2 linked regions of the Homo sapiens genome follow. The protein of the gene in region 1 purifies or fractionates together with the protein of each later gene. This does not show direct contact. Each region holds a gene or a part of one and is shown on either strand. Other genes may lie near its edges.

Evidence for each region. The genes of interacting proteins can lie anywhere in the genome.
Region 2: the proteins of AKAP13 (region 1) and MTR purify together in Homo sapiens (affinity purification with mass spectrometry; 3 studies listed by BioGRID and IntAct, with this or other methods). This does not show direct contact.

What each region holds. Positions count from the first base shown.
Region 1 is NC_000015.10:85,572,576-85,579,602, reverse strand, and holds part of AKAP13 (A-kinase anchor protein 13), read right to left. Parts: intron 4,473-7,027; coding exon 4,274-4,472; intron 674-4,273; coding exon 1-673. UniProt on the Homo sapiens protein: Scaffold protein that plays an important role in assembling signaling complexes downstream of several types of G protein-coupled receptors.
Region 2 is NC_000001.11:236,889,267-236,896,293, forward strand, and holds part of MTR (methionine synthase), read left to right. Parts: coding exon 1-70; intron 71-1,866; coding exon 1,867-2,063; intron 2,064-5,090; coding exon 5,091-5,291; intron 5,292-6,091; coding exon 6,092-6,284; intron 6,285-7,027. UniProt on the Homo sapiens protein: Catalyzes the transfer of a methyl group from methylcob(III)alamin (MeCbl) to homocysteine, yielding enzyme-bound cob(I)alamin and methionine in the cytosol. MeCbl is an active form of cobalamin (vitamin B12) used as a cofactor for methionine biosynthesis.

The sequences.
Region 1 (7,027 bases):
TAGAGTTCTCAAATCTTTCCTTTGTACTTTCCCCTCCCTGAAGCACATTCTTCCAAACAGTGGCATCTGGGTTCATGAGCCCATGTTCCATTTCCCCTGCAGTGTCTGGGGTACTGACATTTGTTGTTGAAATGCCTCCCAGTTCACCTCCAGAGGAATACTGGGCTGTGCCTGGCTCCATGACCAAGTCTCTCTGAAGCACAGCATCTCCACTGCTCAGGGACTCCTGGTCTGTGGGCATTCCAGAAGATTTTGTTCCAGTTTCTTCATTTCTGTTTCCACAGGACGAAAGGCCTTCCGTGCCCTTTACTCCACAATCAGGCAAGCTCTGAAGGCAGCTGTCTTGATCAGATACAGTTCCAGAGTCCACAATAGGTGCTGGCTCCACCTCTTCCCCTTTTCTTTCCACGCCTTTATTTTTCTTCCTACAGGAACGGTCTGTATTCTCCTCCTCAACTATGCTTGACAAATCACAGGGACTTTCAGTCTGTGCAACAGGGCTCCCTGGGCAGCACTGAGTGCTCTCAGTCTCTTCAGAAGAAGAAAGTCGCTGAGGGTCCGTGGGCTCCGGTGCACAGGGAAGAAACTGGCCATCTGTCTCTGGGGCACTGGAAGGATCCTGTGCTGTCATCATTAAGGGCATAAGACTGTCCATCTGCTTGAGGTTTGTTTTCTAGGAGGAAATGAAATACACTTTTAAAAAACTGCCTGTAGGAGAAGATGTCACTGACACCTCTGAGCAAAAATTCTGTTGGACAGAACTCACTTCTATTCTAGCTCTTCTAAGGTCACATGATAAGCGAATCTAAAAGAATACAAATAAATTTCCTCTTATTTCTGATATTACTTTCCTTTCATATCTGCCTATATACTGGGATGTTCAAAATAGATTAGGATATATGAAATATCTATTTTCTAAATTTTGAACTTATTTTAGGAAGTAGATGAAAACTGAGTCTCGCCGGGCATGGTGGCTCATGCCTGTAATCCCAGCACTTTGGGAGGCTGAGGCAGGCAGATCACCTGAGGTCAGGAGTTCGAGACCAGCCTCAACATGGAGAAACCCTGTCTCTACTAAAAATACAAAATTAGCTGGGCGTAGTGGTGCATGCCTGTAATCTCAGCTACTTGGGAGGCTGAGGCAGGAGAATTGCTTGTACCCGGGAGGCGGAGGTTGCAGTGAGCCGAGACAGCACCACTGCACTCCAGCCTGGGCAATAAGAGCAAAACTCCGTCTTAAAAAAAATAAAAATAAAAGAGTCTCAAAAACCTGATTTTTAAAAAGCTCAGTGAATATCTTCAATTGAGCTGCTAACATTAAGGTGGGCTCTCTCATTCTGAGGCCAGGCTGAAGTGCAGTGGTGTGATCACAGCTCACCGCAGCCTTGAACTCCTGGGCTCAAGTGACCCTGCCGCCTCAGCCTCTTCAGTAGCTAGGACTACAGGTGTGCACCATTGCACCTGACTAATTGTTTTATTTTTTGTAGAGACGGGGTCTCACTATGTTGCCCAGGCTGTTCTCCAACACCTGAGCCTATGGGATCCTCCTACCTTGGTCTCCCAAAGTGCTGGGATTATAGGGCCTACACCACTGTGTCCCACCTATATTTTTCATTGTCTTCAGAAGGGCAGAGTCTACTTACACCCTGCCTCATATATACAAGTAAAAACAAATCCTAGCTCTTTTCCATTACAAGGTGCAGCCAATGTGCCTGTGCCCTAAATACTTACTGAGTTCAGTGTCCTTTAATCCCCAAAATATGTTCCAACCAATCTAACTTAACCATCGAGTTATGGGGTCATAATTTCAGGAACAGTGGCATGGCAGATATTCTTTCACCTTTTGATAAAATCAGAACATATTAAATATAAAATAAATGAGAACATATACCTATATACTGTCAGAGTATATTATGGATACTATATGTAATCTCAAAAATGGATTTTGCAACTTTAAAGTATTTAAAAAATATAAACAGATATAACCAACAGCATGGGAATGATTAAGAAAATCAAGGTTCATAAAACTGATGGAAGAAATACTAGCCATTATTAACTATGAGGACCATATTGCAATTAGAAAAAAATTATTAATCTAAGTTTATAAATATGCAAAAATCCCATGTGCATGCAGCAAGGTTTAAAATGGAGAAAAACAAATACAGGTGATCTTTAGTGATTTTACCTTTATATCAAAATTTCAAAAATTCTTATAAAAATATTTTCTCAACACCTAAAATCTATTTTTCCAAACATCTGGTTTGCTCGCCATTCATTCATTACCTGATCTACTGCAATAATATGCATACCTACTGCCATCCATCCTCTCATTCACCTACTCACTCAGTGAATATATTGGGCACTTACAGGGTTCCATCATCAGACCATTCCTATCTACCTACTGAGCCTATTGTAAAAGTTTATATGTACAAGTGTAAAATGTGTCATGCTTGTTAAAGTCTTTCTAGTAGAGTGTACAAGCAAAATGGACTTTCACTAAAAGCTTCTGTGTTAGGCTCCTTAAGAGTATTCAAAATTAGCTTATTTCCAGTCCTGCTGAGAGTACGACAGTCTCCTAAAAATCAGGAAATGAAGTCATTAAATTTAATAAATGGTAAACATTATAAAACAGAAATCTGGCGAAACAAGTAGTGTTGCCTAAAGAAAGTAGCACATGTATGTTCCCACAGTTTTAATTTCTCGTATTTGCCTGCCAACCATTTCCATATCTTGGCAGGTAGCTTTGGTACCTGCAAAACTATATTTTCAAGTGAACTACCATTCACCTAGTAAAAAGAGCTCTAAGGAAAAACCTGATTGCCTAGAAGTCCATTCAGAGGAAAATGAAATGTCACGTGCTCTGGAACAAACACAATTCTAAAACACAAAAGTGGGAGCATCACATAACCCTATGGAATTTCTTGGCTTGCTGGTCTCAAATAATGCATGCTCCCAAAGAAGCCTCTGGCATTGAGCTGACCTTAAATGAAATTACTGTCCAGTGGTTTCCAAATCAAATCAGCTCTGAAATAAACTGGGTGGAAAAATTACCTAAACACAGCCTTTCAGATGTTATGCCCAAGAGAGATGTACACATATGACGTTTATGTTATTCGTAATAAATGCTAACAGGGAGTCTGTAATGTTTTTATGTCTGGCAACAACTTTATCTTGAAGACTTGAGTGGATTATAAAATCTTTTCTGTTTTTTTTAGCTATCTTTGTACCATACAACTATTGATTTAAATATAGTAACACTATATTTAAATGGTACATATCATCGCCACTAAAATAGTTGTAAAAATACTCCTGATTAAATTTGGTTCTTGTTCTTTGGCAACAATCTCAGAAACTGTTGGTTCTTTCATTTTGTAAAGTTAAGCCAAACACAGACAAATATCCTTTTATGCCAGAAATTTAGTTCTAGTTGTTGCATATTTCTGTACCTGAAATGTGTGTCTTCCATTATTCCCAAAACCAATGAAAAAAACCTCTCAGTCCCCCTACGGCTACAACCTTAATGCTAGCTCTGATCTGTAAGTGGTAACATTTAATACTGCTAATACTGCTTTACAGGTCTCAGAATCTTTGGGGAAAGTCCTTCTTTTTCTGTTTTTGAGACAAGGTCTTGCTCTGTCACCCCGGCAGGAGTGCAGTGGTGTCATCTCAGCTCACTGCAACCTCTGCCTCCCAGGCTCACATGATCTGCCTGCCTCAGACCCCCAAGTAGCTGGGACTATAGGCGTACGCCACCATGCCCAGCTAACTTCTGTAGAGCCAGAGTTTCTCCATGTTGCCCAGGCTGGTCTCAAACTCCTGAGCTCAAGTGATCCACCTGTGTTGGCCCTTCCAAAGTGCTGGGATTACAGGCATGAGCCACTGTGCCTGGCCAGGAAAGTTTTTTTTTTTTTGAGACGGAGTCTCGCTCTGTTGCCCAGGCTAGAGTGCAATGGCGTGATCTCGGCTCACTGCAAGCTCCGCCTCCTGGGTTCACGCCATTCTCCTGCCTCAGCCTTCCGAGTAGCTGGGACTACAGGCGCCCGCCACCAGGCCGGCCAATTTTTTGTATTTTTAGTAGAGACAGGGTTTCACCGTGTTAGCCAGGATGGTCTCCATCTCCTGACCTCGTGATCCGCCCGTCTCAGCCTCCCACCAGGAAAGCATTTTTATGTTCTAATTATATCAAGGTTCATTGGAGGAGGGCGGGGACACACACATACAAAACACACACATACACATGCATATACTTAAAAATAAAAGCTTTCTGACTTACCATTAGTTGCTGTTGGATGTTCATAAGTTTAAAAATTGGTCCAGTGCAACCGTCTCCAGGAAATGGGTGTTCATGATGTGAATCAGACTCAGAGGTTAATGTATAGATGTCCAACTCTCGATGATGCCTCACAGAACAGTCTCCATACGGTATTTCATAGGATAAACTGCTCCAGGAGTCTGGTTCTCCAGCATTCTCCCTACATGCAAGCATCTCTGGTTAATATATATACATTCTGCCTCCCAGGCATAGGCTTAACGTTCTAAGTCTTACTTCGTATTTCTAACCTGATTGTTCTTTGAGGTTCAACAGCAAAAATTAGTATATATACCTCCCAAATGATTCAGGCATATAACCAATAGCTCCATCCTCCTCACAAGAGATCACAAATGGGTTAAATGAAAACTGCAGGACTCCTAGCCCTAACAATGTTCTTTAGATCAAGATAAAGAGATATGTGGGATCTAATAATAGTTAATATTATGCTAACAACCAAGTAATGAGGAAGTGCAAGGAAGATGGTTTTAGCCTGATTTTCAACAAAATCAAGGCTTATTAAGAGGTGCTCTTAAAATAAATTAGACCATATGCTAACTACAGTCAATTATAATGGCAAGAGAAGAACCACTCACTCCAACCCTTACAAGGGCACTCCAACTTTTCTAACAATAGGTGCAGAAAACACCCTCAAGATTATTGAAGTCAATTACACAAAGAAAAACTGTTACAATGACATATTGTTCAACACTTGTCAATATAATTATCATATCCTATTTGGAATAAAGCACTTGGTTCCAAGAACTTAAAGTTAAAATTCGTAAAATTTAAAAAACAAGCAAGTTTGCTCAACTCATATCATTATAAACAAATATAACAACTTTCCACCATTATACGCCAACTGATTTGAACAAGGCAAGTGGGTTTCTCCTCTAAAGGCTACAGCACCTCCAATTCCACCCTTGCATCCAGAAGGCATACCCATGCCCGTAATGCCTGCTGTGATACCACACATAATCTGCACTGTGCTTTTTTGCAGCAGATGAAAGAATCTTGGGGCATACAATAAACAGGGATGAGGCACACAATCATACCCCACACAATCTCATATTATTAACTATTGTACTTGAGCACGCATTTCAAGTGTTAAGCACCCTCTTCTACATTCAGCACAAATGTAAATGTCTGAAGTCCTAACCGTTGGTGTCACTATTCTTTCTCATTAGTTTGATACACAGTGTGGTATACAGAGTTAGAGATTTCTGGGTACAAAATTTTATCTCCTAACTATATGATGCTAGACAAATTTCTTAACTTTTCTGAGCCTTAATTTCATAATATGCAAACACAGATATTATAATCTAAGCACTGTTTTGAGAATTAGAGAAAATGTGCATAAAAAACTACATCTATGGTGTTTGACACAGAGAAATCACACACGGATACTGCCTATTCTTCCTCCTTCTACTCTTTCATTCATTTAAAAATAATTCCTAGTAAGCCTTCCCTTCTTAAAAGTAGAAAAACATATCTACTTTTTTCTATTTTTCTACTTGTATCAGAAAATCCTACTTTCTCTGAAAGCTTTAAACATAATGAAAACACTCCTCAAACAGCATTCTGATAAGGTGCCTAGCAGCTCAAAGATCAGGCACAATAATAGATTATGCTTTCCATCAACCCTTTCCTCCTTATATGAAATGTTATTTTTCCTTTCCTTACAACATTAACACCTTTGAATATCCCATATCATATCATATTTATTTATTTATTTATTTATTTATTTTTGAGACAGAGTCCCGCTCTGTCGCCAAGGCTGGAGTGCGGTGGTGCGATCTTGGCTCAATGCAACCTCTAACTCCCAGGTTCATCGATTCTCCTGCCTCAGCCTCCTGAGTAGCTGTGATTACAGGCGCGTCCCACCACGCCCAGCTAATTTTTTTGTATTTTTAGTAGAGACAGGGGTTTTGCCACATTGGCCAGGCTGATCTCGAACTCCTGACCTCAGGTGATCCACCCACCTTGGCCTCCCAACCTATATCACAGTTATTATAATCCCACCAAAGCAAACAATAGATTGGTAAAGTATCCCTGAGATTTTGGGAGGAAGGTTATATTTGAGATCATTATCATGTTTTGAAATAGAAGAAACTAAAGAGTTAAGAAATTACAGACATGCTATCTAGCCACTGAAAAATATGAGAAAGATTACTTCAACTGTCTCTCCAGTTTTTTCTACTAAGTCACACCTGTCTGTCATTAACAATTCACCTGAGACTAATTGGAATTTTAAAGCTAAAAATATGCTACAGTAGCAGCCATAAAAAAGGATGAGTTCATGTCCTTTGTAGAGAAATGGATGAAGCTAGAAACCATCGTTCTCAGCAAACTAACACAGGAACAGAAAACCAAACACCACATGTTTTCACTCATAAGTGGGAGTTGAACAATAAGAACACATGGACACAGGAAGGGGAACATCACACACCGGGGTCGGTCAGGTGGTTGGGGGCTAGGGGAGGGAGAGCATTAGCAGAAATACCTAACGTAGATGATGGGTTGATGGGTGCAGCAAACCTCCACGGCACGTGTATACCTATGTAATAAACCTGCACGTTCTACACATGCATCCCAGAACTTACAGTGTAATAATAAAAAAAAAATTTTTTTTTTAATGCTACAGTGGAAAACGTATAAGGCAATGGAAAATCATGTACTGGCTGACGGTAATAATAATAAAGTGTACTCCAAAAACTA
Region 2 (7,027 bases), on another chromosome or scaffold:
GATGTCTGGCAGCTCCGGGGCAAGTACCCGAATCGAGGCTTTCCCAAGATATTTAACGACAAAACAGTAGGTTAGTGCAGTAAGTCCTTCCTTTCTGCCTCTGATATTCAAGCTGTGGGATTGTGACTTTGAAGACCGGAATCGGTGAGGAGCAGTGGATTTGGATTGTGCAGATTACGGCTGCTTTCATATTGCTCACCTGCCCAACTTTTTAATGGTTTTCAATCTGCTAGATTGGTCCTTATTGCATCAACTAAATTTGGTATTTACTTTATTCTTTCAATAAATGTTTATTGACATCAGTTACATGCTGAGCACTAGGGATAAATGGAAGACAATATAATCCCTGCTGTCTAGCACCTGACTAGCTGGCACATCCAATAGTAATGGGCCCTGCCTGGGCTCCTGTGGACATAAGAGGAGATAGAGCTCAGACTGGGAGGTCAGGGCAGGCTTCCTGGACAAGGTGGTGTTCGAACTGTTTTTGACGATTCAGTGGGAGTTGCCGTGGCTGGGACTGTGGATGTGATATGGTGTTGAAGAAAAGGTCATTCCAGGTAGAGGAGACAGTGTGAGAAGGCACAGGCACATGTGCCTATTTGGGGAACTGCAAGGAGCCCATTGTGCTTGGAGCATTGGGGAGGGAATGGGGATTTAGGGTGATAAACTAGAGAAGTAAGTGAGGTGTTAAATTACTACCCCCACTTCTCACTTCTAGCCTTACCCCAGAATCCACCGACAGAGACACGGAATCCAAATGCAAAGCCATTCAAAGGATCAGGTAGTAGCCAGATCAGAGCAGCAGGGAGGGGTAGACTCACAGAAGCATGGGATTAGGGCTGAGAGGAGCCTAGAAACCAGCCTTTTGCCAAGTTTCCCACGGGGGGGCGTGCCTGGGTGTGCGTGTTCGGATGCTGAGACTCAGGAACTCTCAGGTAGTCAGGAACGTGGTGATGAGCAAGGGGCTTCTTAGTGTGCTGCCCCTGAATCATCACAGGTGAGCTGTCCAGGGGCCGTGGGACAGGCTTCTCACCATGGGCAGGGTGGCCGAGTCTCACGGAAACCGAGATGGTGTCCTCGGAGGCTGGCTCCCACTGCAGGTCCGGGAGCAGGCCAGCCCAGGTGCAGCATTGAAGCCACATGTGAGGATTTGGGCCACACTTCACCCCTTACCACTAACGTTCCCTGTACACATACAATTCCACTGACTTCACAGCGACCTCTGGGGGACGGGGCCTGTGCCTTATATTCACCATGCTTTGTATTCTGTGGTGTCTGGGCCTGGACGCATACAGTGAGGATTTACCGAGTCTGAGTGCATAGGGTGAGGATGTAGCTGTCCTTGTTTAACTCTTCATGGTACTGTTGAAGGCCCCAAATTGAAGAATCCCTTCAGAGGTTGTTACGGTCAAAATGTCAATCGTTACGAATTATATTGTAGTTGGGATTAAAAGCACCACGGAATACGAGGCACAGGTCGCGTCTCCCAGAGGTCACTGCAAAGTCAGTGGAGTTGTATGTGCACGAGGAATGTCAGTGAGGAATGTGGCCTGCTCTTTCTCATCCTCTCTGACAGAATGCTTTGGGGAGCCACAGCTTTGGCTCTCTGCTTTTTGTCCAGTGGAAAACTTGAGTGGCTTGAACTGGGAGAAGCAGACTGTGGGAGCTGCACTTAGCAGGAGCCGCAAAGCCCTGGCTGTTCCACTTTAAGCTGGGTCAGTGGCAAACACCAGAAAGCATTTGAGGAAAATGGAGAAGCCTGAAGAGGGAAGGTGACTGAGGAGGGGTAATGGCTTTTAAAAGAAGCATTGTTTGATGGTTATTTTTGGCATCTTTAAGTGAATTCTAATTCTGTTTTTCTAATAGGTGGAGAGGCCAGGAAGGTCTACGATGATGCCCACAATATGCTGAACACACTGATTAGTCAAAAGAAACTCCGGGCCCGGGGTGTGGTTGGGTTCTGGCCAGCACAGAGTATCCAAGACGACATTCACCTGTACGCAGAGGCTGCTGTGCCCCAGGCTGCAGAGCCCATAGCCACCTTCTATGGGTTAAGGCAACAGGTATGGAAGGTGTACTGACAGCCAGCACACCGCTTTCGCTTGTGAGTTTAAGCACTACACAAAAGAGCTTTGCATAAATGAGGGTCTGCTTCACCTCCTCCCAAATGACCAATCACATGCCCAAGAAGTGACCAGTCACACGCCCAAGCCCAAGCCATCTGTGAGGACGAGGGAGAGAAGGCGCCACCATGGGTGTCAGAGGCAGGACCACTCAGCAGGAGTGAGGCGTTTAATATTGTGTTCCATGGATGGGCGAGGACCATTGCTGCTGTCTCAGGTGGTCACGTGTCAGGATCTCAGTCTTCTTAGCTTCTGAAGAAAGAGAACACTCACTTGTTCAAAAACGTAGGTTAATATCTATGCATATTATTAAAATAGACTGTCAGGTGGCTTCCCTTGAAAGGGGAAGACAGGTGGAAACAAACATTTGCAGAATGTATACCAGGTGCCAGGTGCATAGTAAGGTGCTTGATGGTCATGCTTTTAATTTCCACACAGCCGTGTGAGGCAGTTTAAGTTTGTGTTTTACAGAGAAGATGAAGGATGATGGAGATTGTGCTGGGCCCCCCAATATAGAGAGGAGAGCCCAGCCTGTACATATCCCCAGTGGCCGTTCTTTGACTGTGCTGGCTTTTTTTCTTTCGAGTGACGAGAACAGACTCTTCTCAGCAACTTGTCTCTCATCCCCCCCACCTTTGAAAAGGCAAATATCATATGCATGTCCCTTTAGCTGCTGTAAAAAAGAGTGTCTTAATCAAGAATTGGAACCAGAATTCACCAGAGTCATTAACAAATTTAATAATTTGCAGAAAATTACTCTGTTTTACTGCCATTTTCAGTCGTTCAGAAATAATAATGTTGGCTGGGCACAGTGGCTCACACCTGTAATCCCAGCACTTTGAGAGGCCAAGGTGGGAGGATTGCTTGAGCCTAGGAGTTTGAGACTAGCCCCGGCAAGATGGCAAGACCCTGTCTCTACAAAACAAATTTAAAAATGAGCCGTGCACTGGGGAGTGCAGGCCTGTACTTCTTCAGCCAGCTACTCGGGAGGATGAGGCGGGAGGATCACTTGAGCCTAGGAGATCGAGGCTGCAGTAAGCCATGATCATGCCACTGTATTCCAACCTGGGCAACAGAGTGAGACCCTGTCTCTAAAAAACAAACAAAAAAGATAGTGGCGCATTTTAATCCCAACCACAATATAATTCATAATCATCCATATTTTTACCATAACAGCATCTGAAGGGATTCTTAAATTTGGGGCCTTCAGCAGTACCATGAAGAATTAAACAAGGACAGCTACATCCTTACCATATGCACTTAGGCTCAGTAAATCCTCACTGTATGCGCCCAGGCTCGGACGCCACAGAATATAAGGCACTGGGGTTCTAATGTTAAGTTCCAGCCCCTCCTCACTAGGGAATTTGTGGCTATTCTTTTACAGACATAACTGTTCAAAAACCTCTGCTCTAGCCCAGTCTTTCATCTTTCAAGTCCTGTGTCCTCTGCGATCTCTTTTTACTTTCAGTACCATTCATGTCCGGGCAGTCTGTGACATATTAGGGCATTTAATAGAATGAATTCTCAGAGTTCACCTTTTTAGTAGCCTCTGGAGAGGGGAACTGGGCCAGGCACATACATTACCTACCCAGGTAGCAATTTCTCAGGAGGGGCTTTCCTCCAGTGCACTCTGGAACATTCTGGTGGCAGTGCCTTATTACTCTGGGAGTCTGCTCTTCTGAGTAGGCTCTGATTGCTGTCTCTTCGAAGGTACCATGGGGCTCTGTGATCTCTCTCTCCTGTGGCGCAGGGAAGCTTTGGGTCCCCCTCTGGCCTTTGTTAGCAAAGAATAATTGATGGGCCGAGTATACCTGGAAAACGGCTTCCCCATGCACAGCTGTCCCTGAGCTCTGTGACATTCCTGTGTGCCATTACCAAACACCTCCTCGCCTGTACTTAACAATTTCCTGCCCTGTGTCAATGAAGCTGTACTTGCTTCCACGGCGGGCAACGAGCTGTGAAGTGTGTGGGTTGGCCACTCATTGATTAATTGATCAGTCCTGAGCAGTACCATATATGTAGACGCATGGGTTGTGGTACCAGCCCCCTGGCCCCTCCCACTGTCTGACCTTGGGCCAGTTGATCAAGCTTCCTATGCCCCTGATTTCTTGTCTGTAAAATGGAGCTGATGGTATCACCTATGTCACAAGGTGGTTGAGAGGGTTAAATAGTAATTCATATAAAGCACCAAGAGCAGGCATACAGTAACCACTGAATGAGTATTATAAGCTATTTACCTTCTCAGCAAATATTTATTGATTTTTTTAATATGTATAAGACTTTATTTGTTACCTTAGTTGCAGGGAAGAGTTGCTTATGAGCTGAGGGTGAAAAATGGGGGAGGGTAGGCCCCAGGGCTGTGGAGAAAATCCAGAAGCAAATCCTGCTGAATTCTTGGTTTGGTGCCCAGCCAGCCCTGGGTGTCCTCAGCCGGCTCCTGTATGACCCTTGACCCCACCCCACATGGCAGGCAGCACATGGCCTGGGCATCGCTGACCCCAACAGTTTGTTGTTTGAGCTGCTGCTGTTGATGGAGAGTGGAGGCGCTTCCATTTATTGGATCTCTTTTGAACATGGTGCTGGACTTAATTGAAAACACTTGGGGACAAATTTTTTTTTTTTTTTAAACCGTGACTTTAGCACAGTGCCTGAAGGCATTCAGTAAATGTTTGGTCAGTGTGTGAATGAGCCAGTGAACTGGTGTCTTGACAATTTATGTTACGTCATGTCATACATTTTTTAAAAATCTCATTTCATTTGTTTATCTTACAAATATTTATTGGATACTCACTATGTGTCAGACACAATTCCAAGTACTGGGGATGTAACAGTGCACAATACAGGCTGCCATCTGTGCGTTGTGAAGCTTATTCTCATTTGACGATACCCGATTGCTCTTCATGGTGTGCTGGCGCCACGTTCTTGCTAACGGCGCCCCCGCACACTCCTACACTCCTTGGTTTTAAGGCTGAGAAGGACTCTGCCAGCACGGAGCCATACTACTGCCTCTCAGACTTCATCGCTCCCTTGCATTCTGGCATCCGTGACTACCTGGGCCTGTTTGCCGTTGCCTGCTTTGGGGTAGAAGAGCTGAGCAAGGCCTATGAGGATGATGGTGACGACTACAGCAGCATCATGGTCAAGGCGCTGGGGGACCGGCTGGCAGAGGTAAGGCAGAGGCATTGCGCCGAGGGGCTGAGGACAGAGGCCAGGCAGTAGGGAGCCTGGGGTGGGTGCCTGAAGACTGATCAGCCCTTAGAACCAGTGTCTTTTTTTTTTTTTTTCTTGAGATGGATGCTGCTGGCTTTAACATTATACGTATTTTAATATTATGTATCCCCAGATTGCTTGTGTACATTATCTTTGAGGCAAAGAAAAACCTTGAATGGTGCCACAGTTGGCTGTTGCTCTTAGAGCCTTTATCTCTACCTTATCTCTGTTGTCTCTCTTTGCTTGTTGTGATGTGACATTTTCCTCAGTACCCCAAAAAATTAAAAACAAATTTTTATTTCAGAGCCCCTCGTTGTAATGCTGGTGTCATCTATAGATTCTTCATCTTCCTCTGCATGGAATGAGGGTAGTAGCCTTTGCCCTGGGGAGAGCCTCTCCCTTTTCCTGCAGTGAACAGTGGAGGAACTAGCAGCTGTATGGTCCCAGCTGCTCTTTCTGGCCCGTGGAGCTTTGGATTGACCTTTAGGGAAATCGTTAATTTTAAGGTCTAAAATCTTTAGGTCATTAAGTATGGTCCTTCAGAGCTCAGGTTGAGGCCAAAATTGAGCTGCAGAGCAGCAGCTGATGAAAGTACAAACCAATCAAGAATCCAGCCTGTTTCCTCTTGTCAAATTTCCCCTGGCTGTGGTCCAGATGAGGGAGGGTGTCCTCATGGTTCTAATTCAGGGGGTGGAGGCTGCACTGATGCTGTGAGCCCCTGCGTCTGCCTAAGCATGCCTGCTGCTTTGGGTCCCAAGGCCTTTGCAGAAGAGCTCCATGAAAGAGTTCGCCGAGAACTGTGGGCCTACTGTGGCAGTGAGCAGCTGGACGTCGCAGACCTGCGCAGGCTGCGGTACAAGGGCATCCGCCCGGCTCCTGGCTACCCCAGCCAGCCCGACCACACCGAGAAGCTCACCATGTGGAGACTCGCAGACATCGAGCAGTCTACAGGTAGGAGCCAGGAGGCTGCGGGTTCCTGTCTTCCTTCTTCAGTAGATACTCTTATCAGCATACTGGCACTTAGGGTTAAACATGTTTTTAAAATGGAAGGGCTTCTAATCACATTGTCCCTTATGCTGTCCTTTTTCACTCGTAGCTATTCTGCATTTTACTTCAGTATTACTGATTAGTATTCTTACATCATTATTTTTAGATGTATCAATTTAAATTATTTCCTCTTGGCCTACGCCAGATGGGAGTTTAGCTTATGTATACCATCCTGTGCCTCTCCTGCCCCAGTTTCCTGTCACAGGCATGGTGATGTCTTTAATCCCTCCCTTAGAGACCGACCTTTGTCCCTCAGTAATGTCACTTTGCTTCATGCTCTTGTCTCATTGCTTGTGGATGGTGTCCCTGGGTGCTGGTCTTGCAGAGCGCCCAGCCTTCCCTTCAGCCCTCTTTTCTCTTTACTTTTACACTGTTAGTAACATTTATATTCTTCTGTAATCATAATTCTCTGTTATGTTTTGCCTGTGGATTGATTCTAAAAGCTGAAAATGACAAGCTGGCATGTGCCTTTCTGAGACAAAGGCCCAGACACCCGGCCTCAGCGTCCTGTGCCCAGAGCTGACTTGGCTCGTGGTTCTGTGGCTGCACATTGTCATGTCAATGTCCTGGTTCTGTCATTACTGCAGAGTTCATGTAGTTGAGATGGCCCAGGCTAAGCTCACAGTTTTCAGCGGAATTAATAAAAA